Linked DNA regions of Homo sapiens: regions 2 and 3 are each linked to region 1. Evidence: fine-mapped expression QTL. A gene starts in region 1. Each other region holds a variant in brackets. All regions are shown on one strand. Distances are between the middles of the regions.

Region 1 (9,898 bases):
TACCTCACTTCTACTACTAAAAAAGAGGCAATCAGCCAGGCACGGTAGCTCACGCCTGTAATCCCAGCACTTTGGGAGGCCAAGGCGGGTGGATCACGAGGTCAGGAGTTCAAGACCAGCCTGGCCAAGATGGTAAAACTCCGTCTCTATTAAAAATACAAAAATTAGCCAGGAGAGGTGGTGGGCACCTGTAATACCAGCTACTCAGGAGGCTGAAGCAGGAGAATTGCTTGAACTCAGGAGGCAGAGGTTGCAGTGAGCCGAGATCGCACCACTGCACTCTAGCCTGGGCAACAGAGAGAGACTCCATCTCAACAACAACAACAAAAAAAGAGGCGATCATTTATTATTTTCCTAGACCCTACAGTTTAAAGATCTAAGTACTATATCTGTGATTTTTTATGGAATGTATTTTCCTTACATGTACATGAACAAGCATATAAATTTAAAGTTAATTATATATTCAAGTAAATCAGTAAAATTCAAGATTGCTAGCTGAATTTTTTTTTTTGTCTTATTGACTTATTTTTTTTGAGACCAAGTCTCATGCTGTTGCCCAGGCTAGAGTGCAGTGTCGTGATCTGGGCTCACTGCAACCTCCACCTCTCAGGTTCAAGCGATTCTCGTGCCTCAGCCTCCCAATTAGCTGGGACTACAGGCATGAGCCACCATGCCTAGCTAATTTTTGTACTTTTAGTAGAGATGGGGTATTTCACCATGTTGGCCAGGCTGGTCTCAAACTCCTGACTTCAGGTGATCCACCCACCTCGGCCTCCCAAAGTGCTGGGATTATAGGCGTGAGCCACCTGCCCAGTCTGCTAGCTTAATTATTTTTTTTCAAGATGGAGTCTTGCTTTGTCTCCCTGGCTAGAGTGCAATGGCGCAATCTCGGCTCACTGCAACCTCCACCTTCTGGGTTCAAGCAATTCTCCTGCTTCAGCCTCACAAGTAGCGGGATTACAGGTGCATGCCATCATGCCCAGCTAATTTTTTGTATTTTTAGTAGAGGTGGGGCTTCACCATGTTGGCCAGGCTGGTCTTGAACTCCTGACCTCATGATCCACCTGCCTCAGCATCCCAAAGTGCTGGGATTACAGGTGTGAGCCACTGCACCCAGACCAACTTAATTCTTAAGATAAAATGTATTATAGTATTATGGCTGGGCACAGTGGCTCACACCGAGATCGCGCCACTGCACTCCAGCCTAGGCAATAGAGCCAGACTCCATCTAAAAAAAAAAAAAAAAAAAAAAGAGTATTACAGTATTATGTAAACAACCACTCTAGTGCTATAAGTGTGACCTAAGTACTTAGCACTTTAACAAATTGATGTAAGTACTTAGTACTTTAACAAATTAGATCTGAAGTTGAAACACAGTTGCTGGTTTTCAGAAAACCGTTCTGGATTTAAGGGTTTCTGGATAGGCGACCTCAGAACATGGCACCTTATGTCCATTTTCACGCTGCTGATAAAGACATATCCAAGAGTGGGTAACTTATTATTATTATTATTTTAGACAGAGTTTCACTCTTGTTGCCCAGGCTGGAGTGCAATGGCACCATCTCAGCTCACTGCAACCTCTGCCTCCTAGGTTCAAGTGATTCTCCTGCCTCAGCCTCCCAAAGTAGCTGGGATTACAGGCGCCCGCCACCATGCCCAGCTAATTTCTTTTTGGTATTTTTAGTTGAGACGGGGTTTCACCATGTTGGCCAGGCTGGTCTTGAACTCCTGACCTCAGTTGATCCACCCGCCTCAGCCTCCCAAAGTGCTGGGATTACAGGCGTGAGCCACCGAGCCTGGCAAGAGTGGGTAACTTATAAAGAAAAAGAGGTTTAACTGCCGCAGTTCCACGTGGCTGGGGAAGCCTCAAAATCATGGCAGAAGGCAAAAGGCACGTCTTACATGGTGGCAGGCAAGAGAGAATGAGAGCCAAATGAAAGGGGAAACCCCTTGTAAAACCATCAAATCTCATGAGACATTCACTACCACCAGAACAGTGTGGGGAAAACTACCCCATGATTCAATTACCTCTCCTCAGGTCCCTCCCACAACACATGAGAATTATGGGAACTACAACTCCCATGAGATTTGGGTGGGGACACAGCCAAACCATATCACTTGGCATTTGAGGAAATAACAGTAGCAGGAAGGTCCCCCTCAGACCTTCTTTTGCCCCTCTTCCCTGAAGCAGGCCATAAAAGAATTCTCTGCTCTTCCTCTGAAGAAGATCATAAGACTCTCAAGTGAGAGGTGCTTTTCCCATACCCAGAGGAACACTCTTATCTCTTGGGATATGAAAGAGCAAAATAAATGCCCCTTTATCAACTAAGATGGGCCCTAAGGTTAAGAAAACAAAAATTGGCCGGTGCGGTGCCTCACGCCTGTAATCCCAGCACTTTGGGAGGCCAAGGTGGGCAGATCACGAGGGCAGATGTTCGAGACCAGCCTGGCCAACATGGTGAAACCCCGTTTCTACTAAAAAATACAAAAATTAGCTGGGCGTGGTGGCGGGCGCCTATAGTCCCAGCTACTCGGAGAGGCTGAGGCAGGAAAATGGCGTGAACCCGGTAGGCGGAGCTTGCAGTGAGCCGAGATCGTACTACTGCACTCCAGCCTGGGCAACAGAGCGAGACTCCGTCTCAAAAAAAAAAAAAAAAAAGAAAGAAAGAAAGAAAGAAAAAAAGAAAACAAAAATTGCCCACGGGTCAAGGGTTCAGGGATTGGCCGGCACGGCAACTTCCCAGATTCCTAAAGCTACAAGAAAAACTACACTCGTGGCAGGGCGCGTGGCTCACACCTGTAATCCCAGCACTTTGGGAGGCCAAGGCGGGTGGATCACCTGAGGTCAGGAGTTGGACACCAGCCTGACCAATATAGTGAAACCCCTTCTCTACTAAAAGTACAAAATTAGCCGGACGTGGTGGCTGGCGCACGCGTGTAATCCCAGCTACTTGGAAGGCTGTGGCAGGAGAATCGCTTGAACCGAGGAGGCGGAGGTTGCAGTGAGTTGAGAGTCCGCGCACCGTTGGCACCGCGATGAGGGCGGGAAGCACAGCGCGGGGCCCCCGGGAGCAAGAACGCCGCGGGCACCCAGCCCTCGTGGGAGGCGGCGGTCGGGGCACGCCCCGGGCCGAACCAGGCTCTGCACTCCCGCGGGTGCCCGGACCTGAAGGGTCGTCCGCTGGCTCCAGGATTCTGCATCCCCGACCCGCTCCGGGTGCGCCGAGGCTGCTGGGACTTCGCTGCGGGAGCGCGCCCGGGGCCCCGGGGCCTGCACGGAAGGCGGCTGCGGGGAGGGTGGCCGGGCAGAGGCTTCGGTCCCGGGCGCCCCCTCCCCGGCCGGACCCCCCTCCCCGGCCGGACCCCGAGTCTGCAGTCTCCGCAGGTGTGCCGCGTGCGGGTAGAGACGGACGTGGGGCTGGACGCGGGCACTCAGGGACGGACGGGTGGGGGACCGACGGCCGGGGGAACAGAGGGCGTGGAGAGACGGCCGTGGGGACAGGGGGGCGGGTGGGCGCGGGAAAGGACGGACTGGGGGACTGAAGGACTGGGGTCCCGCGCCCGATGGACGGAGGCGCCAAGGACCAGCGGACTCGGGGGCGACTGGGCGACGGTGGGCGCAGCAGGGCGGAGGCACGGACAGAGGACGTACCTACAGGCCCGGCCCGGCCGCCTTCGCCTGATCCCGAGACCCACGGCGAGCCTCGCGCCGCCGCCGCCTCCCCTCCGCCTTACCTAGGGCCAGCATGTAGCCCTCGAAGTTGTCGCTGCTGAGCAGGGTCCAAGTACCGCTGAGGTCGGCGGGCATGGTCGGGGATCGCGGGACAAACCCGGCGGGCGGCCGGAGGCTCGGGCCGGGACCTATAAACCAGGCGGGGCGGGGCAGGGGGGTGGGGCCGCGCGCGGGAGGAGCAGGTGGGGCCGCGTGGGTCCCACTCACCCCTAGAAGCCGCTGCGCTCCCGGCCGCCTCAGCCCGGTGCTCCTGGCTCTGCCCACCGCGCGGCAGCTTCCCCCTTTCCTTGGGGCTTCCTCTCCTACTGCTTTCTCATGTCCCAGACTGTTTCGGGCCACATTTTCTTCCCTGCTTATATGTTAATGACCCAGGGATGATCTTCAAACTCATGGCATTGAATATTGTCAGCTTCAATAACAATATACCTCTCAACGTAACTCTCATGGTCTCAATAAATAGGAGTTTATTTTTCTTAACAAGGAGTCCTGAGAGAAGTGATTGCTGGTGATGATTCGCACCTAGGAATCACAGTGATTCGCACCTCGGTAACGCCGCAGCTTCGTCTCTGTGACTCTGGTGGCCTTTTATTCCTGCTTGTTACCTCCTGGTCATGAGCTGGCAGCTGGGTTCCCAGCCAGGACATCCACATTCAAGGTAGGGAAGAGGGAAAGCACCAAAGGTCAGTATCCCTGCAGCACAAACCTCCCCATCTCCTATAAGTCTGGATAGTTGGAAAAAAGAAAAGAAATTACCCAGCAGGTTTCTGTGTACATTTCATTAGCCAAAACTGTATCAATGCCACTTCTAACTGCAAGGGGGCCTGGGGATTCTAGTCTGCAGCATTTAGCCTCAGAGCAGAGAAAAGCAAAGGAGAAGGGGTGGGAATATGGGCTAACCTACAACATTAGCCACAAACACCGCCTAGATATGCTGGCTCCAAGACTGACTTATTGATTTTATTTTTATTTTTTTTCTTTTGAGACAGAGTCTCACTCTTTCTTTTTTCTTTTTTTTTTTTTTTTTGAGACGGAGTCTCGCTCTGTGCCCAGGCTGGAGTGCAGTGGAGAGATCTCGGCTCACTGCAAGCTCCGCCTCCGGGGTTCACGCCATTCTCCTGCCTCAGCCTCCCGAGTAGCTGGGACTACAGGCGCCCGCCAACACGCCCGGCTAACTTTTTATATTTTTATTAGAGACGGGGTTTCACCGTGTTAGCCAGGATGGTCTCGATCTCATGACCTTGTGATCCGCCCGCCTTGGCCTCCCAAAGTGCTGGGATTACAGGCCTGAGCCACTGCGCCCGGCAGAGAGGGAGTCTCACTCTATCGCCCCGGGCTGGAGGGCAGTGGTTCCATCTCGGCTCACTGCAACCTCCGCCTCCCAGGTTCAAGTGATTCTCCTGCCTCAGCCTCCCGAGTAGCTGGGATCACAGGTGCCCATCACCATGCCCAACTAATTTTTTGTATTTTTAGTGGAGATGGGGGTTTCATCATGTTGGCTAGGCTGGTCTTGAGCTCCTGACCTCGTGATTCGCCTGCCTCAGCCTCCCAAAGTGCTGGGATTATAGGTGTGAGCCACCGCACCCGCGGTATTTATTTTTTCATTTATTCTTTTTATTTTATTTTATTCTATTTTATTTTTTGAGACAGACTCTCACTCTGTCGCCTAGGCTGGAGTGCAATGGTGCAATCTTGGCTCACTGCAACCTCCGCCTCTTGGGTTCAAGCAACTCTCCTGCCTCAGCCTCCTGAGTAGCTGGGATTACAGGTACCTGCCACCATGCCTGGCTAATTTTTATATATTTTAGAAGAGGTGGAGTTTCACCATGTTGGCCAGGTAGGTCTCGAACTCCCAACCTTAAAAGATCCACCCACCTAAGCTTCCCAAAGTGCTGGAATTACAGGCATGAGCCACCACACCCAGACTGACTATTTTTTGAGATAGAGTCTTGCTCTGTTGCCTAGGCTGGAGTGCAGTGGTATGATCATGGTTCACTGTAGCCTCAACCTCCTGAGTTCAAGTGATCTTCCTGCCTCAGCCTTCTAAGTAGCTACAACTACAGGCATGTGCCACCATGCCTGACTAATTTTTTTAATTTTTTATAGAGATGGAGTATCCCTGTGTTGCCGGCGGTTGGTCTCAAACTCCTAGGCTCAAGCAACCCTCCAACCTTGGCCTCCCAAAGTGCTGGGATTACAGGTGTAAGCCACTGTGTCCAGCTCAAGATTTATATGTCAATTTATGACCTCTCCCATGAGTTCCAGACTCAAATATAATAAAAGCTAGCAGTCCGTGCATGGTAGCTCACACCTGTAATCCCAGCACTTTGGGAGACCGAGGTGGGTGGATCACCTGAGGTCAGGAGTTTGAGACCAGCCTGGTCAACATGGTGAAACCCCATCTCTACTAAAAATACAAAAAATTGGACAGGCGCAGTGGCTCAAGCCTGTAATCCCAGCACTTTGGGAGGCTGAGGCGGGCAGATCACGAGGTCAGGAGATCAAGACCTTCCTGGCTAACATGGTGAAACCCTGTCTCTACTAAAAATACAAAAAAATTAGCCGGGCGTGGTGGCGGGCACCTGTAGTCCCAGCTACTCGGGAGGCTGAGGCAGGAGAATGCGTGAACCCAGGAGGCGGAGCTTGCAGTGAGCCGAGATCGCGCCATTGCACTCCAGCCTGGGGGACAGAGCAAGACTCCGTCTCAAAAAAAAAAAAAAATACAAAAAATACAAAAAATTAGCCAGGCATGGTGGCGGGCACCTGTAATCCCAGCTACGTGGGAGGCTGAGGCAGGAGAATCGCTTGAACCCAGGAGGCAGAGGTTGCAGTGAGCCAAGACCGTGCCATTGCACTCCAGCCTGGGCAACACGAGCCAAACTCTGTCTCAAAAATAATAAAATAAAAAATAAAAGCTAACATTTGGCTGGGGACAGTGGCTCACGTTCGTAATCCCAGCACTTTGGGAGGCTGAGATGGGTGGATTGCCTGAGGTCAGGAGTTTGAGACAAGCCTGGCTAACATGGTGAAACCCCGTCTCTACTAAAAAAATACAAAAGTTAGTCAGGTGTGGTGGCACACGTCTGTAGTCTCAGCTCCTGGAGAGGCTGAGGCAGGAGAATCACTTGAACCCGGGAGGCAGAGGTTGCAGTGAGCAGAGATTGTACCATTGCACTCCAGCCTGGGAGACGGAGTGATTCTGTTGCAAAAAAAAAAAAAAAAAAAAAAAAAAAAAGCTAACATTTGTTGAGTGCTATGTGTATTATTATTTGTTGCAAAATCCTACTTCTCCAATAGTTATTTTATTAACTCCCTTTGACAGAGCTAAAAACTGAGGCATAGAGAGGTTAACTAACTTGCCCGAGGTCATATAGTTGGCAGAGTCTGGATTCAAACCCAGGTAACCTGCCTGCACGTTCAGTGCCACCTCTCGCCTCCTACTTGACGTCTCCACTTGGCTATCTTAAAGGCATCTGAAACTTGACGCAGCTAAGCTAGAAAGTGTAAGAACAAAATTTTTTCCAGCTCTCCTTATCTCCATACATTCCATTAGGCCCCTGGATGCTCAAGCTAAGAATCCAGTAGATTTGTGAATTTCCATCTTCTCTGCTGGCCAAAATCCAGTCCCTCAGCAAGTCCTCTTGGTTCTACCATCTTAACCCAAGTCCCCATCATCTCTTGCCAGGACCACTTATAAAAATCTTTCATCTGGACCTGCTGCTTCCCTTCTGAGTCCCTCAAAACAATTCTCCATACGCAGCCCCGGCAAGCTTTTAAGGAATGTAATTCAGATCTTCTCACTCCTTGCTTACAGCCCTTCAGTATTGTCCTGTCTTTCTTTTTTCTTTTCTTTTTTTTTTTGAGATGGGGTGTTGTTCTGTTGCCCAGGCTGGAGTGCAGTGGCACAGTCTTGGCTCACTGCAACCTCCACCTCCTGAATTCAAGCAATTCTGTCTCAGCCTCCCGAGTAGCTGGGACTACAAGCGCATGCCACTACACCCGGCCAATTTTTATATTTTTAGTAGTGATGAGGTTTCACCGTATCGGTCAGGCTGATCTCGAACTCCTGACCTCAGGTGATCCACCCACCTAGGCCTCCTGAAGTGCTGGAATTACAGGTGCGAGCCACCGCTCCTGGCCTGTCCTGTTTTTCTTAAAAGGAAATTTGCACTCTCTCTCATGGTTAGGTTCACAAAGTCCTTCCTGGTTTGGCTCCTGGCTACTCCTCCACCAGCAGTACATCCTGTCTCCCCCAACTCAGTTCCTCTAATCACATCACACCCTTTCCTTCAGAGTCTTGGTATTTGGTGTCTCCTCTTTCTGAGATGTTTTTCCTCCTAGTTTTTGCCTGGTTAGCTCCTTTGGCTTCCAGCTCAAAAGTCACTATTAGGGGTACAGTCTTTTCTTTTCTTTTTCTTCTTTTTTGAGACCAAGTCTCGCTTTGTTGCCCAGGCTGGAGTGCATTGGTGCGATCTCCACTCACTGCAAGCTCCGCCTCCTGGGTTCACACCATTCTCCTGCCTCAGCCTCCTGAGTAGCTGGGACTACAGGCACCCGCCACCACACCCAGCTAATTTTTTGTATTTTTTAGTAGAGATGGGGTTTCACTGTGTTAGCCAGGAAGGTCTCGATCTCCTGACCTTGTGATCCACCCACCTCGGCCTCCCAAAGTGCTGGGATTACAGGCGTGAGCCACCACGCCCGGCCATAGGGGTACAGTCTTTTCTAGTCATGGTCTCCATGGAGAGGAATTGTCCCTAAACGCCCCTGGCCTCTGCTCATCCTCTTAGGATTGGAACAACTAGGACTGAAGGAGTGCCTGGGACATGGAACTCTTGCTGCTAACATTGGAAAAGCCCCTGGTAAACTGGGATGAATGCTTGCTCTCGGGGCAACAGCCACTGAACCGTTTTCGTCAACTAGGTAGAGGTAATCTATAAAAAAATTATAATCCTAGGCTGGGCGTGGTGGCACATGCCTGTAATCCCAGCATTTTGGGGCCGAGGAGGGAGGATCATTTGAGCCCAGGATTTTGAGATCAGCCTGGGCAAGATGGCAATGTCCTGTCTCTATAAAAAATAAAAAAACTAGCTGGGTGTGGTGGTATGCACCTGTAGTCCCAGCTACTCGGGAGACTGAGGTGGGACGATCGCTTGAACCTGGGAGGTCGAGGCTGCAGTCAGCCGTGATGGAACCATTGCACTCCAGCCTGAATGACAGACTGAGACCGTCTCAAAAAAAAAAAAAAATCTAAACCTAAAGTATTTATTTACTTACTTATTTATTTAGAGACAGAGTCTCGCTTTGTCACCCAGGCTGGAGTGGGGTGGCTCAACCTCTGCCTCCCAGGTTTAAGAAATTCTCCTGCCTCAGCCTCTAGAGTAGCTGGGATTACAGGCGTGAGGCACTGTGCTCAGCCCTTTTGTTGCTTTTTTTTTTCGTCTTATTTTTCAGTTGGTTTAGAATGTGGACAGAAAAGTACTTGGATATCTTCAAGAACTTGAGAGCCATCTTCTCAGAACAGCCTTCCTATATGCTCCTAATACACACTTACTCCACATCACATCTCTGCTTACGTCCTTTATCATTATTATAATCCATAATTATCTTTTTTCTTTTTTATTGACTGCCTTTTCCATGAAGCTTTCCAGGGCAGAGCCCATGTTGATTTCATTCACCACTCCTGTATCTCCAGGGTCTAGCACAGTGCCTGGTAAGTACTCAATAAATGTTTGTTGACTGACTGACTGACTGGCTATGACCTTTTCCAAGGGAGAAATGCCATTTTCATTGAGAAGCCAGAGTGACATCACCTTGCCCATAATGAGCTAGCTGTTGATTCTCATAACTGTAAGACATAGATTCCAGGCTTGGTGCGGTGGCTCACGCCTGTAATCCCAGCACTTTGGGAGGCTGAGTTAGGAAGGTCACTTGAGGTCAAGAGTTCAAGACCAGCCTGGCCAACAGGGTGAAATCCCATCTCTACTAAAAACAAAAATTAGCCAGGCTTGTAATCCCAGCTACTGGGGAGGCTGAGGCAAGAGAATTGCTTGAACCCGGGAGGCAGAAGTTGCAGTGAGCTGAGATTGCACCATTGCACTCCAGCCTGGGTGAAGAGGCAAGACTTTGTCTAAAAAAAAAAAAAAAAAAATTCAGCTGACTAAGAGA
Region 2 (9,898 bases), 29 kb after region 1:
TGGGCGTGGTGGCTCACACATGTAATCCCAGCACTTTGGGAGGCTGGGGCGGGTGGATCATGAGGTCAAGAGATCAAGACCATCCTGGCCAACATGGTAAAACCTCGTCTTTACAAAAAATACAAAAATTAGCTGGGTGTGGTGACAGGCACCTGTAATCCCAGCTACTTGGGAGGCTGAGGCAGGAGAATCACTTGAACCCAGGAGGCGGAGGTTGCAGTGAGCCGAGACTGTGCCACTGCACTCCAGCCTGGCGACAGAGAGAGACTCCATCTCAAAAAGAAAAAAAAAATTGGCTTCAATCATTATGCTAACTCTAAAAATGTTTCCACATCTCCATCCCTCCTTTTCAATGTGAATCTGCAACTTCTACCATGAAGAGATGGAAGTGACTTCTCCACATTTTTTGACTTGCTTTGGGCAAAAGAATGTGGCACAAGTGTTAGTGTGGAGGATGCCAGAACATGTGGGAGAGCACCGATGCTCCCACTGATAGACAACCACCCCACATGTGGGGAACATAGCCATCCCCGACCAGCCAACTACAGTCCATCTGCTCAGACACATAAGCAAACCCAAGTGAGATCAACCAAACCTGGCTCAGATCGTCAAGCCAACAAGCTGACCCTAGTCTCAAAAACAAAAAATTAGTGTTCATTATCATATGTCACTCAAGTTTTGTGATTGCACTATTGTGGCCACAGTTAATTAATACAACAATATTATCATCTACCAAATACAGCATTTTTGCCTTTTAGTCAACATGATAGTAACATCATAACTTTCCACTAAATAATAGAATATAATTTACAAACCTCTTTTTCATATCAGTTATTCCACTGATCCTTCCATAACCCTAATGAAGTAACATAAGGCATCCAATTTTAGGTTTTTATTAAAATTTCTTTTTTTTTTTTTTGAGACGGGAGTCTCACTCTGTTGCCCAGGCTGGAGTGCATTGGCGCGATCTCAGCTCACTGCAAGCTCCGCCTCCCAGGTTCACACCATTCTTCTGCCTCAGCCTCCCGAGTAGCTGGGATTACAGGTGCCTGCCACCACACCTGCCTAATTTTTTGTATTTTTAGTAGAGACGGGGTTTCATCATGTTAGATGGTCTTCATCTCCTGACCTTGTGATCCGCCTGCCTCAGCTTCCCAAAGTGCTGGGATTACAGGCGTGAGCCACTGCGCCTGGCCTAAAATTTCTTATTCAACTAATTCATATATATAGATCTAGAACATCACAGGGTAAAAAAGGCCCTTAATGAAAACCAACAGCCATCAATCATATTCCACTCATCATCCCTTCCATCCAACCACTTTTAACTTTTTCAGCTATTTCTTCTGGTAGTTTCTACCATAACTCTACATTATGTGCTTATAATGCCATTTCTTAATTTATCCAACTATAACAGTGCCCATTGACTTTATGATCTATAAAGATTAGCCCTCATACCCTTTGACTACCTTCTCCCAAACTGCCCAATATAGTTTATCTCCAGACTATGTTGAAAATCATCTTCTCTCACAACTTCAAAGGCATTACTTCTAGATTCCAATGTTAATAGCATGAAATCCAAAGCCACTTCTAATTCCGGAGCTTTTGAATGTCATTTTTTTCCTGTCTTGAAGCATGTAAGGTCTTCTCTTTGTCCGCAGTGTTCTGAAATTTCACAGTGCTGTCCTCTAGTGCAGCTTTGTTTCTATCCATCATGCTGAGCACAGGGCAAGCAGGTCCTTTCAGTCTGGAAACTTGTAACATTCAGTTCTAGAAAATGTCCTTGAGTTCTTTCATTGATGATTTTCTGCCTCCCATTTTATCTGTTCTTTTGAAATGTCTATTATTTATTTATTTTTTTGAGACAGAGTCTCCCTCTCTCACCCAGGCTGGAGTGCAGTGGCACGATCTCAGCTCACTGCAACCTCCACCTCCCAGGTTCAAGCAATTCTCCTGCCTCAGCCTCCCAAGTAGCTGGGACTACAGGCATGCACCACCACACCCAGATAACTTTTGAATTTTTAGTAGAGATGGGTTTCACCATGTTAGCTAGGCTGGTCTCGAACTCCTGGCCTCAAGTGATCCACCCACCTCAGCCGCCCATGAACCACTGTGCCTGGCCTGAAAATGTCTATTATTTAGAGCTGAAGCATCTAATCATTTTTTCTGTATTTTCCACCTCCTGCCTTCATGCTCTAATTTCCTGATAGCCTCAACTTCATCCTCCAATCTGCCTAGTTTTCACTTCTGCCATTACACTCTTAATTTCCAAGAGCCCTATCCTCTGAATACTCCTGTTTATGGTATTCTACTCATTTCCCCAACAGATTATCATCTCTATTTCTCTACCAATATTCATGATATATTTTAAAGTTTCTTCAAAAAGAGCTGATGGGACAGGCTGAGTGGGTAGGTAGGGCTTGTGCACAGGGGCCATAACTGTTCAGTAACCTGTCAGTACCGCAGGTCTTTTTGCTTGGATTAGTCAGACTCTACAAGAAAGTATCCTACAATTTCCCGCCTATATAACAGAAGAGTTAAGAGCCTATGCTCTGATATTAGGCTGCCTGGCTTCAAATTGCAGCTCCAACGGCATGACCTTGGGCAACCTAACCCTAACTTAACCTTCCTTTTGTGCCAGGTTTTTTCTTTGGCTTTTTTTTTTTTTTTTTGAGACAGAGTCTCGCTCTGTCACCCAGGCTGGGGTGCAGTGGTACGATCTCAGCTCACTGCAACCTCTGCCTTCCAGGTTCAAGCAATCCTCCCTGCTTCAGCCTCCCAAGTAGCTGGGATTACAGGCACGTGCCACCACACCTGGCTAATTTTTTTTTTTTTTTTTTTGAGACAGAGTCTCGCCCTGTCGCCCAGGCTGGAGTGCAGTGGCATGATCTCGACTCACTGCAAGCTCCGCCTACTGGGTTCATGCCATTCTCCTGCCTCAGCCTCCCGAGTAGCTGGGACTATAGGTGCCCGCCACCACTCCTGGCTAATTATTTTTTGTATTTTTAGTACAGACGGGGTTTCACCATGTTAGCCAGGATGGTCTTGATCTCCTGACCTTAAGTGATCCACCTGCCTCGGCCTCCCAGAGTATTGGCATTACAGGCATGAGCCACAGTGCCCACCTTGTCCCAGTTTTTAATCAATCTTAAAAAGGAGAAAATAATACTACCTACCTCCTGATTGTTGTGAGGATTAAATGAAACAATACAGATCCAAGACATAGAACTACATTTGGCAGGCCAGGCGCGGCGGCTCACGCCTGTAATCCCAGCACTTTGGGAGGCCAAGATGGGCAGATCACGAGGTCAGGAGATCGAGACCACCCTGGCTAACATGGTGAAACCCCATCTCTACTAAAAACACAAAAAAATTAGCCAGGCGTGGTGGCGGGCACCTGTAGTCCCAGCTACTCGGGAGGCTGAGGCAGGAGAACGGCGTGAACCCAGGAGGCGGAGCTTGCAGCAAGCCAAGATCGTGCCACTGCACTCCAGCCTGGGCAACAGAGCGAGACTCCATCTCAAAAAAAAACAAAAAAAAAAACTACATTTGGCAAATAGCAAACATGCTATGAATATAGCTATTATGAATGTTGCAAATTATGTTACTAGAATTGTCTTTTGTTTTTTGATTTTTGAGACAGTATCTCACTCTGTTGTCCAGGCTGGAGTACAGTGGTACAATCTCAGCTCACTGCAACCTCCATCTCCCAGGCTCAAGTGATCCTTCGACCTCAGCCTCCCAAGCAGCTGGGACTACAGGCATGCACTGGCTAATTGTTTTTTTGTATTTTTTGTAGAGATGGGGTTTTGCCATATTGCCCAGGCTGGTCTCAAACTCCTGGGCTCAGAATCTCGAAGCGAACCTGTCCACTTTGGCCAATTCCAAAGTGCTGGGCTTACAGGTATGAGCCACTGTGCTCAGCAAGCAATTTTTTTTTT[A/TA]ATCAACAAAACATCAATTTCAAATGGTTTAATTTACAATTGCTATTCTATTCAATCTGTTTTTTTCCCAGAGGATTTTCTTTCTGGAACTCTCCTCCTCTTATCCAGATGAAAAATCTCTATTTGTGAAGCTATTATTCTGAAAACTTCTTCATCTCTTTCCTGGGTTAGATCCCCTATTTATTTCTCGCTTTGCTTTCTAATCTTTCTGGAGCGTATCCTCAAGCGTTTCATGATAAAGGGTTGATCTCTCATACACCCTTTATCATGAAACTACTTGAGAATATGCTCCAGTAGGATTCGTGGGAGATCAAGTAAGTTTGATAGGCGCATGGGAGATCAAGTAAGTTCGACGATGTTGTTATTCTTCCTTCAATTATTAATGGCTTGAGAAAATTCTTTTCAACTCAATAATTTCAAATAATTTTTTTTTTGCGGGGAGCCGGGGGGACTTAGTTTCACTCTGTCACCCAGGCTGGAGTGCAGTGGAAAGATCTTGGCTCACTGCAACCTCTGCCTCCCAGGTTTAAGCAATTCTCCTGCCTCACCCTCCTGAGTAGCTGGGATTATAGATGCCTGCCAACATGCCCAGCTAATTTTTGTATTTTTAGTAGACACAGGGTTTCACCACTTTGGCCAGGTTGGTCTTGAACTCCTGACCTCAGGTGATCTGCCCGCCACGGCCTTTTAAAGTGTTGGGATTACAGGCTCGAGCCACTGTGCCCAGCCCAAATAATTTTTGAAATTATTCTTTTAAGATTATAAAGGCACTTCTTCATTGTTTGCTGGCATTCAACATTGCTGTTGAAAGTCTGAGGTCATTCTAATCCTTGTTCCTTTATGTGTAACCTGCTTTTACTTTCTAGAAGATGTGTAGTATATTATCTTATCCCTAGTACTCTGGAATGCCCAGTGATGACAGTATCTTTTTCATTCATTGTACAGAACCTTTTAAATGCTGCCTACTAGTTTTCAACAAGTTAAAAAAATAACTTTGCTATTGTAAAGGTTTTCAAATAAATATTTGTATATAATTATATATACATACTTTTTTTTTTGAGACTAAGTCTCACTCTGCTGCTCAGGCTGGAGTGCAGTGGCAAAATCTTGGCTCACTGCAATTTCCATCTCCTGGGTTCAAGCGATTCTCCTGCCTCAGCCTCCTGAGTAGCTAAGAATACAGGTGCCTGCCACCATGCCCAGCTAATTTTTGTATTTTTAGTAGAGATGGGGTTTCACCATGTTGGCTAGGCTGGTCTTGAACTCCTGACCTCAGGTGATCTGCCTGCCTCAGCCTCCCACAGCGTTGGGATTACAGGCGTGAGCCACCGCGCCCGGTCAATAATATTTATAAATAATTTCTTTCTGTTTTGAGATGGAGTCTCCCTCTGTTGCCCACGGTGGAGTGCAGTGGCACGATCTCAGCTCACTGCAGCCTCTGCCTCCCAGGTTACAGTGATTCTCCTGCCTCAGCCTCCCAAGTAGCTGGGACTACAGGCATGCCCCACCATGCCTGGCTAATTTTCGTATTTTTGGTAGAGACGGGGTTTCACCATGTTGGCCAGGCTGGTCTCAAACTCCTAACCTCAAGTGATCTGACTGCTTCAGCCTCCCGAAGTGTTGAGATTACAGGCGTGAGCCACCGTGCCCAGCCAAATACTTCTGAATAAAATTTTTTTTTTTGAGAAAGGATCTCGGTGTGTTGCCCAGGCTGGAGTCCAATGGCATGATCACAGGTCACTGCAGCCTCTGCCTCCTAGGCTCAAATGATCTTCCTGCCTCAGCCTCCAAGTAGCTGGGACCACAAGCACATGCCACCACACCTGGCTATATTTTTTAAATCTTTTGCAGAGACAGGGTCTCACTATGTTGTCAAGGTGGGTCTCAGATTCCTGGCCTCCTGCCTCAGCCTCTCAAAGGGATTACAGGCATGAGCTACTGTGCTTGGACTTCAAAATAAATATTCTTGGCCAGGTGCGGTTGCTCACACCTGTAATCCCAGCACTTTGGGAGGTCAAAGCAGAGAGATCGCTTGAGGTCAGGAGTTCAAGACCAGCTTGACCAACATGGTGAAACCCCATCTCTACCAAAAATACAAAAATTAGCGAGTGTGGTGGCGCACACATGTAATCCCAGGTACTTGGGAGGCTGAGGCAGGAGAATCACTTGAACCTGGCAGGCAGGGGTTGCAGTGAGCCGAGACTGCACCACTGCACTCCAGCCTGGGTGACAGAGCGAGACTCTGTCTCAAAATAACAACAATAATATAAAAATTAAAAAGTAATAAATATTCTTATATATCCAAAGAATGTCTTAAAAATAATCATTCTGAGATCTTTTTTTTTTTTTTTTTTTGAGATGGAGTCTCGCTCTGTTGCCAAGCTGGAGTGCAGTGGCACAATCTCAGCTCACTGCAACCTCCGCCTCCTGGGTTCAAGCGATTCTCCTGCCTCAGCCTCCTGAGCATCTGGGACTACAGGCCCACGCCACCACACCCAGCTAATTTTTGTATTTTTAGTAGAGACAGGGTTTCACCATGTTCGCCAGGATGGTCTTGATCTCTTGACCTGGTGATCCACCCGCCTCGGCCTCCCAAAGTGCTGGAATTACAGGCATGAGCCAACACACCTGGCCCTGAGATCTTATAAATATAATTCCAGTGACATAATCTTGCTCAAAGTATTTTCAAAACTTTGGGGAATTTTTTGTAGAGCTTGAAGCTTTTTTTTTTTTTTTTTTTTGTCGCCCAGGTTGGAGTGCAGTGGCACAATCTTGGCTCACTGCAACCTCTACCTCCCTGGCTCAAGTGATTCTCCTGCCTCAGCCTCCCGAGTAGCTGGGACTACAGGTGTGCGTCACCATGCTGGCCAATTTTTTGTATTTTTAGTAGAGATGGGGTTTCACCGTGTTAGCCCAGGATGGTCTTGATCTCCTGACCTCATGATCCGCCTGCCTCGGCTTCCCAAAATGCTGGAATTAGAGGCATGAGCCACCGTGCCTGGCCGCTTGAAGCATTTTTATAATTAACATAGAAATATAGCAAATGACAATAAACACATCAATAGTTATATGCTACTTTTGGTTTACAAAAACAAAAGTATAGAATACTTTTATTTTTTCTTTTTGAGACGGGGTCTTGTTCTGTCACCCAGGCTGGGAAAGCTGGGAGGTTTAGCTTGAACATGGCTCACTGCAGCCACGATCTCCTGGGCTCAAGGATCCTCCTGCCTCAGCTACTCGTGTAGCTGGGACTGCAGGCACACATCACCACACCCAGCTTATCTTTCTATTTTTTTGTAGAGAAGGAGTCTCATTTTGTTGCCCAGGCTCTGCTTCCCACTTTGGGAAGTGGAGGTGGGAGGATTGCTTGAGCCCAGGATTTCAAGACCAAGGGCTCAAGTGATCCTCCCACCTACACTTCTCAAAGTGCTGGGATTACAGGTGTGAACCACCACACCTGGCTTTATAAAAATACTTTCGGCCCGGTGTGGTAGCTCACACCTGTAATCCCTGCACTTTGGGAGGCCGAGGTAGGTGGGTCACTTGAGGCCAGGAGTTTGAGACCAGCCTGGCCAACATGGTGAAATCCCATCCCTACCAAAAGTATAAAAATTAGCCAGGTGTGGTGGCTGGTGCCTGTAATCCCAGCTACTTGGGAGGCTGAGGCACAAGAATTACTTGAACCCAGGAGGCAGAGGTTGCAGTGAGCTGAGATCACGCCTCAGCACTCCAGCCTGAGTGATAGGGTGAGACTCTGTCTCAAAAATAAAATAAAATAAAATAAAATTCATACACATTGTCATTTGATTCTCACTGCAAAAAAATAACTTGGCCAAAAGCAATTAGCATGTTCCAAATGATAATCTATAGTTAATTCAGTTTTTCCAGTTAATCTTCGACCTTTGGATATTTAGGTTTTTCTAATTTTTCACTATTACAAACATCTCAAAAAAGAAATAATGGGGGCCAGATGCGGTGGCTCACGCCTGTAATCCCAGCACTTTGGGAGGCTGAGGTGGGCGGATCACGAGGTCAGAAGTTCGAGACCAGCCTGGCCAACATGGTGAAACCGTCTCTACTAAAAAATACAAAAATTCGCTGGGCGTGGTGGTGTGCGCCTGTAATCCCAGGTACTCGGGAGGCTGAGGCAGGATAATTGTTTGAACCCGGGAGATGGAGGTTGCAGTGAGCCTAGATTGTGCCACTGCACTCCAGACTGGGGGACACAGCAAGACGCCATCTTGGAAAAAAAAAAAAAGAAATAGTGGGTTAAAAATAAATCTGGAAATTAAGGCTATGCAATGCCTCACTGTGTACATCTAAGACTTGGCAATACTGAAAACACCTGTGTCAAGACTGTTCATTTGTAGCCCAATAGTAGTCAGACATAACTGCTAGGCTGACCAACTTGCTTTTGTTCAGATTTTATGCTGTCAGTGGACAAAGCTAGTGAATGGCACATCAGGACTAGAATTTAGGTTTCCTGACTCTTAAGCTCTCTCACCAAGAAGAAAAATGGGAGATAAACTGGAACAGTGTAGATTGGAATTGAGCCCTCTCATAGCTAAGGAGTTGAGAAATATAAACTTTAACCCCTTGGACAATGGGAACCTTTGAAGGTTTCTGAGCAAAGGAGTGACAACAGGGTTCTCAAAATAATATGACATGGGTGTTAAAAACCCTTATTTGGGGCCAGGCACGGTGGCTCACACCTGTAATCCCAGCACTTTGGGAGGCCGAGACGGGCGGATCACGAGGTCAGGAGATCGAGACCATCCTGGCTAAAACGGTGAAACCCTGTCTCTACTAAAAATACAAAAAATTAGCCGGGTGTGTTGGCAGGCACCTGTAGTCCCAGCTACTCGGGAGGCTGAGGCGGGAGAATGGCGTGAACCCGGGAGGCGGAGCTTGCAGTGAGCCGAGATCGCGCCACTGCACTCCAGCCTGGGCTACAGAGCAAGACTCCGTCTCAAAAAAAAAAAAAAAAAAAAAACCCTTATTTGGTTGTGTGATCTTGATTTGATCTCTTAACTCTGTTTTTAGGTTCTTTATCTGTAAAATGGAGATAATGAGAAGGCCAATCTCAGTTACTTTGAGGATTAATTCTGAGGATAAACATGGCAAGGGGCTTAGCATATTGCCTGGCACAGTGTTAAAATGAATGGTAGCTGTTATTTTTTTTTTTTTTTCAGACGGAGTCTCGCTCTGTCGCCCAGGCTGGAGTGCAGTGGCGCGATCTCGGCTCACTGCAAGCTCCGCCTCCCGGGTTCACGCCATTCTCCTGCCTCAGCCTCCCAAGTAGCTGGGACTGCAGGCGCCCACCACTACGCCGGGCTAATTTTTTGTATTTTTAGTAGAGACGGGGTTTCACCATGTTAGCCAGGATGGTCTCAATCTCCTGACCTCGTGATCCGCCTGCCTCAGCCTCCAAAAGTGCTGGGATTATAGGCGTGAGCCACCGCGCCCGGCGGCAGCTGTTATTTTTGAGGAAAGTGATGTTACTGATGACAGTGATGATTTGGAATTCATTGGACGGGATGAAACAAGATAGGAAAAGCAGCCACAAATAGTCAGTGGAAATGGAAGTAAGAAAGATACTTGGGGTCCGGGCGCGGTAGGTCATGCCTGTAATCCCAGCATTTTGGGAGGGCGAGGCAGGTGGATCACCTGTGGTTGGGAGTTCGAGACTAGCCTGACCAACATGGAGAAACCCCGTCTCTACTAAAAATACAAAATTAGCCAGGTATGGTGGCACATGCCCATAATCCCAGCTACTTGGGAGGCTGAGGCAGAACTACTTGAACCTGGGAGGTGGAGGTTGCGGCGAGCCGAGATCATGCCATTGCACTCCAACCTGGGCAACAAGAGCAAAACTCCGTCTCAAAAAATATATATATACTTGGGGCCTTCTCGAAAGAAGGCACAGTGGTGGGATCACAGGGACACTGCTAACTGTTCTT
Region 3 (9,898 bases), 77 kb after region 1:
GAGCCTTTTTTTTCCCCAAATAAGACAATTAAGTGTTTTATTGTTAATACATTTAGATATATAGCGGCATCCCTGTAGAGGTTTGTTTTACAGTGAGAAAGTTGTGTTTTAAGTTGACCCAACAATGAAAAACAACTATTGGCTGGGCACAGTGGCTCATGCCTGTAATCCCAGCACTTTGGGAGGCCGAGGCGGGTGGATCACGAGATCAGGAGTTCGAGACCAGCCTGGCCAAGATGGGGGAACCCCGGGTCTACTAAAAATACAAAAAATTAGCTGGGCATGGTGGCAGGCACCTGTAATCCCAGCACTTTGGGAGGCTGAGGTGGGTGGATCACCTGAAGTCAGCAGTTTGAGACCAGCCTGGCCAACATGGTGAAACCCCATCTCTACAAAAATACAAAAATTAGCCGGGCGTGGTGGCTCATGCCTGTAATCCCGGCTACTCGGGAGGCTGAGGCGGGAGAATCGCTTGAACCTGGGAGGCAGAGGTCGCAGTGAGCCAAGATTGTGCCATTACACTCCAGCCTGGGTGACAGAGCAAGACTCTGTCTCAAAAAATATATATAAATATAAATAAAAGCAATATAATGCTACTTCACAAAATATTTAAAATATTTTTTTCTCTTTTTTTCTTGACCCAATGCTAGCAGAAAAGCATAAATCTTAAAATATGCATTTCAAAAATTCTATACTATACTTGGGAGGCTGAGGCAGAAGGACTGCTTGAGCCCTAGAGTTCTAGTCCAGCCTAGGCATTATAGTGAGACCCCATCTCTTAAAAAAAAAAAAAAAAAAAAAAAAAAAGAAGCATTGGGCCAGGTGCGGTGGCTCATGCCTGTGATCCCAGCACTTTGGGAGGCTGACGCAGGCTGATCACCTAAGGTCAGGAGTTCGAGATCAGCCTGGCCAACATGGCGAAACCCTGTCTCTACTGAAACCACAAAAATTAGCTGGGCGTGGTGGCAGGTGCCTGTAATCCCAGCTACTCAGGAGGCTGAGGCAGGGAGAATCACTTGATCCTGGGAGACGGAGGTTGCAGTGAGCCAAGATCATACCTCAGTGACAGGGCAAGACTCCATCTCAAAAACAATAAAATAAATAAAATGGAGGCATTGTATTTGGGTTGACCAAGGGAAGCCTGTGTATTCATGGTCTTGCTATTTGAAATAATGGGAAATGAAGATCATAAAATTAACTGGGAGTCCCTACTGTGGGAAAAAGCCTACAATTCTGTTACTCCTGTCTTTTCCTTTCCTGGAGGTGAGGTAAATTACTTTTTCTGTTATATTTCCTTCTCTTAAAAGTTGTGCTAAAAAGATCTTATAATAGCCCAAGACATCCTAATGAAAGAATGTGATTGAGTTGGTGGGAATGTATGTGTTATAGTATAGTCTGTCTCAGTAGGGTGTCATTAGCAGCAGAAATGGAAGGCAAATTAAAACTAGTTCCTTTATCCTTTTCAGACCCTGCAGCCCCTTTAGCATGCTGCTTCTATATGTTTCCTACTCTGAAAAGAAATTAAATGGGAATTGCCTACTCAAAGCTGTTTTAAAATGTCCTAAGTGTCACCTGGATGCTTGTTTGAGGCCTGCCTGCATCCTCCTCTGTGAGCCTGCCTTCCTCTCTTTCCTAAGAACGTGCTTCTGCATATTAGTGAAATAAGTGCCTCTTTCTGTTCTGTCTATAGTTAGCCACCAATTAATAAGATGAGCAGAAATGCTCCCATGCTGAGCACTGTGCTAGGGGCAGGGAAGAAGCTGACACTACTTTATGAGGCAAGCTATGTAAGCGCCTTTTTATCTCCTAGGAGAGGCCCTCAATAGGTTCGGTCTACCCCCTGGAGCCTGTAGCTATTTCAGGCTACTCATTAAAGTCAATCTAGGATATTGCCAAAGCCTTTGAATTCTTTAAGTGAATTGCCTCCACTTGAAGTCAGCTAAAAATAGTTCACTTTCGCTCCCCAGGACGGCCCCCAAGTTACATGAACTACCTGCTAGACTCACACCCCAGCAAAAATATTGATGTCCCCAGCAAGATTAGCTTCCTGTTAAAGATCCAGGACCTGTGAATACATGCGTAACTGCAAGAATGGAAGCAAAGGATGAACCCAAGTTAAAGCCCAGCACAAGAATATGATGTAAGCGCTTTTGGGAAATGCAGAGATTTTCTTTTCTCTTCAAATAATAAATTACATCTAAAAATTAATGAGAGTATAGGCCGGGTGTGGTGGCTTAATGCCTGTAATCCCAGCACTTTCGGAGTCTGGGGCAGGTGGATCACCTGAGGTCAGGAGTTTGAGACCAGCCTGGCCAACATGGTGAAACCCCGTCTCTACTAAAAATACAAAAATTAGCTGGACATAGTGGCACATGCCTGTATTCCCAGCTACTTGGGGAGCTGAGGCAGGAGAATCGCTTCAACCTGGGATGCAGAGGTTGCAGTGAGCCGAGATCACACCATTGCACTCCAGTCTGGGCAACAGATCGAGACACCGTCTCAAATTAAAAACAAAAAAAAGGCCGGGCACGGTGGGTCACACCTGTAATCCCAGCACTTTGGGAGGCTGAGGTGGGCAGACCACGAAGTCAACAGATCGAGACCATCCTGGCTAACGAGGTGAAACCCTGTCTCAGCCGGGCGCAGTGGCTCATGCCTGTAATCCCAGCACTTTGGGAGGCCGAGGCGAGTGGATCACGAGGTCAGGAGATCGAGACCATCCTGGCCAACATGGTGAAACCCCAACTCTACTAAAAATAGAAAAATTAGCTGGGCGTGGTTGTGTGCACCTGTAGTCCCAGCTACTTGGGAGGCTGAGGCAGGAGAATCGCTTGAACCTGGGAGGCGGAGGTTGCAGTGAGCCGAGATTGCACCACTGCACTCCAGCCTGGCAACAGAGCAAGACTCTGTCCCCCCACCCCAAAAAAGAAACCCCGTCTCTACTAAAAATACAAAAATTATCTGGGCATGGTGGCACATGCCTGTAGTCCCAGCTACTCAGGAAACTGAGGCAGGAGAATTGGTTGAACTGGGGAGGCGGAGGTTGCAGTGAGCCAAGATCACACCATTGCACTCCAGCCTGGGCAACAGAGCGAGACGCCATCTAAAAAACAAACAAAAACCCAACATTAATGAGAGTACAAAGCATTATGCCAGACCCATCCATCATAAACTTGAGTACCTGCTATGACTTTCTCTTCTTTCATTTGGAACCCACTGTAGAATCGGTAGCCTCAGAGTAATTGGCTGAAGAGAGTGCATTCTTGGCTGGGCGCGGTGGCTCATGCCTGTAATCCCAACACTTTGGGAAGTCTAGGGGGCTGGATCACTTGAGCTCGGGAGTTTGAGACCAGCCTGGGCAACATGGCAAGTCCCCATCTCTACAAAAAAAATACAGAAATTAGCTGGGTGTGGTGGCACGCGCCTATGACTATAGGAGGTTGCGTGCCTGTAATCCCAGCTACTCACAAAGCTGAGGTGGGAGGATCACTTGAGCATGGGAGGCTGAGGTTGCAGTCCGCTGAGGTCATGCCACTGTGCTCCAGCCTGGGTGACAGAGTGAGACCTGGTTTCAAAAAAAAAAAAAGAGAAGAGTGAGCATTTTGGGGCAGGTAGAGCCAACCCTGATAGAAAGAACTTCATCTTGTGTTTACACAGAAGTGACTGCAAGAAAGGGAACAATTTGTTTCTGAAACTCCTTGTGACATTTATTGTTATAGCAAGTGCTTCTGGTCACCGAGAAATCATATGCATACTGCATCCAGAGACTCAATGAGAAAATTGGGCTCATGGATACTAAACTGTTCCTTAAATGCTCAAAGCTGATAATATACCAATTTTATACCATATATGTTAAAGGCCTCGAGAAAATTAAAGCAGGTTTTTTAGGGGCTAAAGCAAAGTGGCTTAGGATGAATAAAGCAGTAGACTCTACCATTTACTTGGTTTCCATCAGAATGGAAAATGCCAAGGCCAGCACAGTGGTTTTGCCCTGTAATCCCAGCTACTTGAAAGGATGAGGCAGAAGGATCACTTGAGTCCAGGAGTTCCAGACCAGCCTGGGCAACATAGCAAGACCTTGTCTCAAAAAAACAAAACAAAAAAAGGCCAGGCATGGTGGCTTACGCCTGTAATCCCAGCACTTTTGGAGGCCGAGGTGAGCAGATCACCTGAGGTCAGGAGTTCAAGACCAGCCTGGCCAACATGGTGAAACCCCCGTCTCTACTAAAAATACAAAAATTAGCTGGGCATGGTGGCGTGTGGCTGTAGTCCCAGCTACTCAGGAGGCTGAGGCAGGAGAAGCGCTTGAACCCCGGAGGCAGAGGTTGCAATGAGCCAAGATCGCGCCACTGCACTCTAGTCTGGCGACAGAGCGAGACTTTGTCTCAAAAAAAAAAAAAAGAAAAATATATATGTATACAAAAATTAGCCGGGCATGGTGGCACGTGCCTGTAATCCCAGCTACTCGGGAGGCTGAGGCAGGAGAATCACTTGAACCTGGGAGGCGGAGGTTGCAGTGAGCCAAGATTGTGCCATGCACTCCAACATGGAAGACAGGGTGAGACTCTATCTCAAAAAAAAAAAAAAAAAAAAAAAAGAATTAGCCAGACATGGTAGTAGGTGCCTGTAATCGCAGCTACTCAGGAGGCTGAGGCAGGAGAATCACTTTGGACTTGGGAGGCGGAGGCTGCAGTGAGCCGGGATTGTGCCACTCTAGCCTGGGCAACAGAGGAACTCTGTCTCCAAAACAAAAAAAGGAAAATGCCTCACTCATAGCTGCTTTGATATATTGGGGTATGAATCAGAAAACTTTTATTCATACCTCTCTCTGTTGGAGTAGAACATACTTCCTTGCTCTACTGTTTGGGGCTAGGCTGTTAGATGATATGGCCAATGACCTTCCAATGTGCTTCCACAGTTGGGCTTGCTGCTCTTGTTCTGTTTGTTTGTTTGTTTGTTTGTTTGTTTTTGAGACGGAGTCTCGCTGTGTCGCCCAGGCTGGAGTGCAGTGGCGCGATCTCGGCTCACTGCAAACTCCGCCTCCCGGGTTCACGCCATTCTCCTGCCTCAGCCTCCCGAGTAGCTGGGAGTACAGGCGCCCGCCACCGCGCCCAGCTAATTTTTTGTATTTTTAGTAGAGACGGGGTTTCATTGTGTTAGCCAGGATGGTCTCAATCTCCTGACCTCGTGATCCGCCCGCCTCTGCCTCCCAAAGTGCTGGGATTACAGGCATGAGCCACCGTGCCTGGCCATTGCTCTTGTTCTTCTACCATTCATCATAAGAGGAATATACCCTGGCTAGCCTCTAATCCAAGGAGGAGGAGGAAATTTGAGGCAGATTTAATCCTAGTCTGCAGCTAAACCTTGCTGATCCCATCCCGACTCAG[C/T]AGAGTCATAGGCAACTCACAGCCTGAAGCCAGGCAATTTGAGGACTCCTGAGCAAAAAAAACAAAAAAACAAAAAAAAAACAACACGAAAAAACCACTATATTTTGAGGTGGTTTGTTATACAGCATTATTGCAGCAATAGCTGACTAATATACTCCTCTTGTTCCATTTTAGCCCATTTTCCATGCTATAGCCATAGTCAGCTATTTAAATACAATTCTGATGATGTCACATTCTTGTTTAAACCCTGCAATCATTCTCATTACTCTTGGAATAAAAACCAAATGCTTAGCATGACCTATAAAGGCCTGTATGATTTGGGTCTGGCCTCTCTCTCCGTCACTGCACTCCAGCCCCCAGCCTTCTCTCAGTTGTTTGATCTCATCATGTTCTCTTGCCTCCTCATGACCTTTTTTTTATGGGCTGGTCCTACTGTTGGCTTTGCTCTTCTCCTCACCCTTTGATTAGTTAACTCCAACTTATACTTGGAGTGTAAGCTTAAATATTACTTTCCCAAGGAAGCTCTCCTTGCCTGTTAATACAAGGTTAGATTCCCAGTTATATGGTCCCACAGCCCCTTGTATGTCAGCTTTTAGCATTTAATTACAGTTGCAATGAATTATTCAATCATGTAATTCATTGATGTCTCTTACTCACTATGAGGGCAAGGACAATATATGTCTGATTTGCTGCTTTATCCCCTGCCTAGTACACTGCCATGCACCTGGAAAGAACTCAATAAATATTCCTTGAATGAGTGATTGACTGAAGAGACTGGCTATGCTTGATCAAGAGTCAGGAGAAGGTATGAATCAGTGCAACTGAAAGGAATATTAAGAGTTTAGTGTAAGGTAGTGTGAATATTGGAACAAGGTCAGAAAGATGCCCACAAAGGAAACAGTCTTTTGTTAGTCACAGAGCCAGGTTAGTGATAGTAATAATGAGAGTTAGATGTCCAAATATTACTGAATTCAAAATTAAAACTACGATAATAAGAGGAACTGTCATTAGCTGCAGGGAGGTTGACAATGTGGAAAAGTTGGACTGTGATAGAATGACCAATGAGTTCCAAACAAGGGACCATAGTCCTAGAATTTGAAAGTTAGATCAAAACTATGCCTTTTGGCTAGGTGTGGTGGTTCATGCCTGTAATCCCAGCACTTTGGGAGGCTGAGGTGGGAGGATCACTTGAAGCCAGGAGGTAGAGGCTGCAGTGAGCCCTGATCATGCCACTGCACTCCAGCTTGGGGGACAGAACGAGACCCTGTCTCAACAAAACAAAACAAAACCTTATGCCTTTTTGGGGTTGTAACTTTTAAAATAGTGTGTTGGCCGGGCATGGTGGCTCACACCTATAAATCCCAGCACTTTGGGAGGCTGAGGCGGGCAGACACTTGAGGTCAGGAGCTCAAGACCAGCCTGGCCAATATGGTGAAACCCTGTCTCTATGAAAAATACAAAAATTAGCCAGGTGTGGTGGCGGCCGCCTGTAATCCCAGCTACTCAGGAGGCTGAGGCAGGAGAATCACTTGACCTGGGAGGCAGAGGTTGCAGTGAGCTGAGATTGTGCCATTGCACTCCAGCCTGGGTGAGAGAGCAAGACTCCATCTCAAAAAAATAAATAAAAATAAAAAATAAAAATAAAATAGTGTGTCACAGCTTATTGAATAGGAAGAAACCAGGTACCATGAAATCTACAGAGAAAAAGTAAAACTACCAGGAATGACAGGAAATTTGAGATTTGGAATGAAAACCTCCTGAAGGTTTCACCCTTTTTCTTTGATATGCTATCACAGAAGGGAGCCTGTGGAAGCAATTCCATTCTCAAACTCCGTTTTGACAGCAGTGTATACAAATATATAACCTCAGCTCTTGTTTTTTTTTTTTTTTTTTTTTTTTACAGAAAGAAAAGTGGTAGAGAGTTTTTAAAAATTCTTTCGCTATTAAGTATCTTGGTCTATTTCCCTTGGCTCCATAGCTTGTACTAATTAAAATGATTTCAATAGAAGATCCTAGAGTGCAGCTTTCTTTTCTTCCCTCCCTTCCTCCCTCCCTCCCTCTCTCTCTCTCTCTCTCTCTCTTTCTTTTTGCTGCCTGTGTTGGCTCTCATGTTCTTTGCTTAAATAATTAATAATCATTACTATCTATTCAGCAGCATGTGAGAGAAGAGTGTGTAATCTTGGATCCCAGGATATTAACGCTATGCCTGTCCCCGCTGCATAAGCTTTCATGTGAGGCTCTTCATTAGCTAACACCAGGGGATGGATCTGCTGCCCTCAGTCTTTACTGTTTATTATCTATAAAAAAGAGCCCCCTCTGATTCACCAGCTGGGGCAAATACTGCTGATGGGAAGTAATTTCCCAAAAGAACAGTAATGAAAGTGGGGTGGAAATGAGCCACAAAGTTCATTTAGATTTAGCAGTCTCTGCTGGACTGGAGGCAAAATCTAAGTGTCTGTCACACTGCAGCAAGCTAGACCTCAGTGTTACAAATAGCAAAGGATTTCAGAAAAAAAAAAAAAAAAACTAGATGAACATATGAACGAGATATATAAACAGGAGAGTTTATAGTCTAGGGTCAGTTTATTTATTTATTTATTTATTTAGAGAGGGAGTCTTGCTCTTGTTGCCCAGGCTGGAGTGCAATGGCGCAATCTCGACTGACCGCAACCTCTGCCTCCTGGATTCAAGCGATTCTCCTGCCTCAGCCTCCCAAGTAGCTGGGATTACAGACGTGCACCACCACGCCCAGCTAATTTTTGTATTTTTAGAAACGGCATTTCACCATGTCGGCCAGGCTGGTCTCGAACTCCTGACCTCGTGATCCACCTGCCTTGGCCTCCCAAAGTGCTGGGATTACAGGCATGAGCCACGGCGCCTGGCCAGTTTATTTATTTTTTATTATTATTTTTTTTGAGATGGAGTCTCAAAAATATTTTTTATTATTTTTATTTTTATTTTTGAGATGGAGTCTCAGTCTATTGCCCAGGCTGGAGTGCAGTGGCGTGATCTCGGCTCACTGCAACCACTGCTTCCCATGTTCAATTGATTCTCCTGCCTCAGCCTCCCGAGTAGCTGGGATTACAGGTGCACGCCACCACACCTGGCTAATTTCTGAATTTTTGGTAGGGATGGGGTTTCGCCATGTTAGCCAGGCTGATCTCGAACTCCTGAGCTCAGGCAATCCACCCGCCTCAGCCTCCCAAAGTGTTGGGATTACAGGTGTGAGCCACAGTGCCTGGCCTGGGATAAGTTTAAAAATTGCTACTGTTGGCCAGGAGCTGTGGCTCACGCCTGTAATCCCAGCACTTTGGGAGGCTGAGGCGGGTGGATTGCCTGAGCTCAGGAGTTCGAGACCAGCCTGGCCAACATGGCGAAACCCCGTCTCTACTAAAATACAAAAAATGAGCCAGGTGTGGTGGCACACGCCTGTAGTCCCAGCTACTGAAAAGGCTGAAGCAGAAGAATTGCTTGAACCCAGGAGGCTGAGGTTACAGTGAGGCAATATTGTGCCACTGCACTCCAGCCTGGTCGACAGAGCAAGACTCCTTCTCAAAAAAAAAAAAAAAAAATTGCTACTGTCTTACAATGGTGAAGGTCAGGAGCAAAGTTATAGATGTTTAATAATAACAGACTCTACTGCTTGTTTACAACAACAAACTACCGGGCAATCTATATTCAATAAGATGAGGAAAGAATTGCTTGTCAGGAGTGGTCTTTTCAGTCTCATCTGAATACACTGATATCATTGCAACATCTACAGCTATGAAATGCCATTTATATGCCAGGGAGAGTGGGGGAAGACAGTTATTTAATTTTTCCCAGAGGGTACAGGCTATTTGCTTTTAGGGATGGTCATTTTTTTGGGTCCTTAATTAGACAATAACCAGCAGGAAAAAAAGGTGATAAACAGACTGCTATGGTTAAAGGCTAATCAGCTGAGTATATGGATCCAAATTAAGGTCTTATGTTGCTTTGTCTTTACTAGGTGATTAGAATGTTTCAGGCTTCACAGACAAAATACACTTAGAAGACATGTTGGTTGATCAAAACACTCAGCCAAAGAAATGAATAATTATTTCTTTATACTGTTCCCAAACACATAAAAGCTGGGTTCTGTGATGTCGGGAAGATCTACTCATCAGATGCTACAGAGACTAACACTTGGGGGGCATGCTGGCAGAGAGCCAGATGTTCACAGCTGCACATACCCCACTCATGACACAAAATATGTATATTCACCGATCTACAAAATGCTTTCATCATTGTGTTTAATAATTCCTTATCATCTCCAAAGTAAAATTAGATGACAAGTATTTGCCAAGGCACAACACAAGAGGGTGACACATGACTGTGACACTCTTTGTCTGCTGTGCACTTAGCCTCCTTTTAATTGTCTGTCTTCAGAGAAGTTAGAGCTATACCAAATGCAAACAGGATGGCAAACAAAGAGACCAGAGCAAAAGATCATTTTTTCACTTTCTAAATACTGGAAGTTATTAATTTACTCA

Which allele goes with the higher level. Positions count from the first base shown, and alleles are read on the strand shown. Sizes are in standard deviations (SD) of each study's normalised expression.
With allele A in place of TA in region 2, the expression in subcutaneous fat of the gene that starts at base 3,839 in region 1 is higher (large effect, 1.4 SD a copy in TwinsUK).
With allele T in place of C in region 3, the expression in breast of the gene that starts at base 3,839 in region 1 is lower (small effect, 0.21 SD a copy in GTEx).

The links. PIP is the estimated chance that this variant, and not a neighbour inherited with it, causes the effect.
Region 2: its variant is the best candidate, but not a certain one, in a credible set for the expression of RBP7 in subcutaneous fat (TwinsUK, PIP 0.50).
Region 3: its variant is the best candidate, but not a certain one, in a credible set for the expression of RBP7 in breast (GTEx, PIP 0.68).

Annotation. Positions count from the first base shown.
Region 1 is chr1:9,991,169-10,001,066 of GRCh38, reverse strand. It overlaps RBP7 (retinol binding protein 7), which reads right to left and starts at 3,839. Exons shown (of 4, transcript NM_052960.3): 1 at 3,736-3,839. The coding sequence starts at 3,808. It overlaps LOC124903840 (basic salivary proline-rich protein 2-like), which reads left to right and starts at 2,978. Exons shown (of 2, transcript XM_047436754.1): 1 at 2,978-3,385; 2 at 4,215-4,348. The coding sequence starts at 3,037. The coding sequence ends at 4,348. It also overlaps a transcript of NMNAT1 not described here. RefSeq lists silencers at 1,890-2,090, 9,502-9,796.
Region 2 is chr1:9,961,711-9,971,608 of GRCh38, reverse strand. The region is part of intron 1 of NMNAT1 (nicotinamide nucleotide adenylyltransferase 1); the gene reads right to left. MIR5697 (microRNA 5697) reads right to left here and starts at 4,228; the gene lies at 4,151-4,228. The variant A/TA (reference allele first, on the strand shown) is at 3,939.
Region 3 is chr1:9,914,428-9,924,325 of GRCh38, reverse strand. It overlaps a transcript of LZIC not described here. Among named protein-coding and RNA genes, the nearest start is that of CTNNBIP1, 9.1 kb to the right of the region's middle. The variant C/T (reference allele first, on the strand shown) is at 5,388.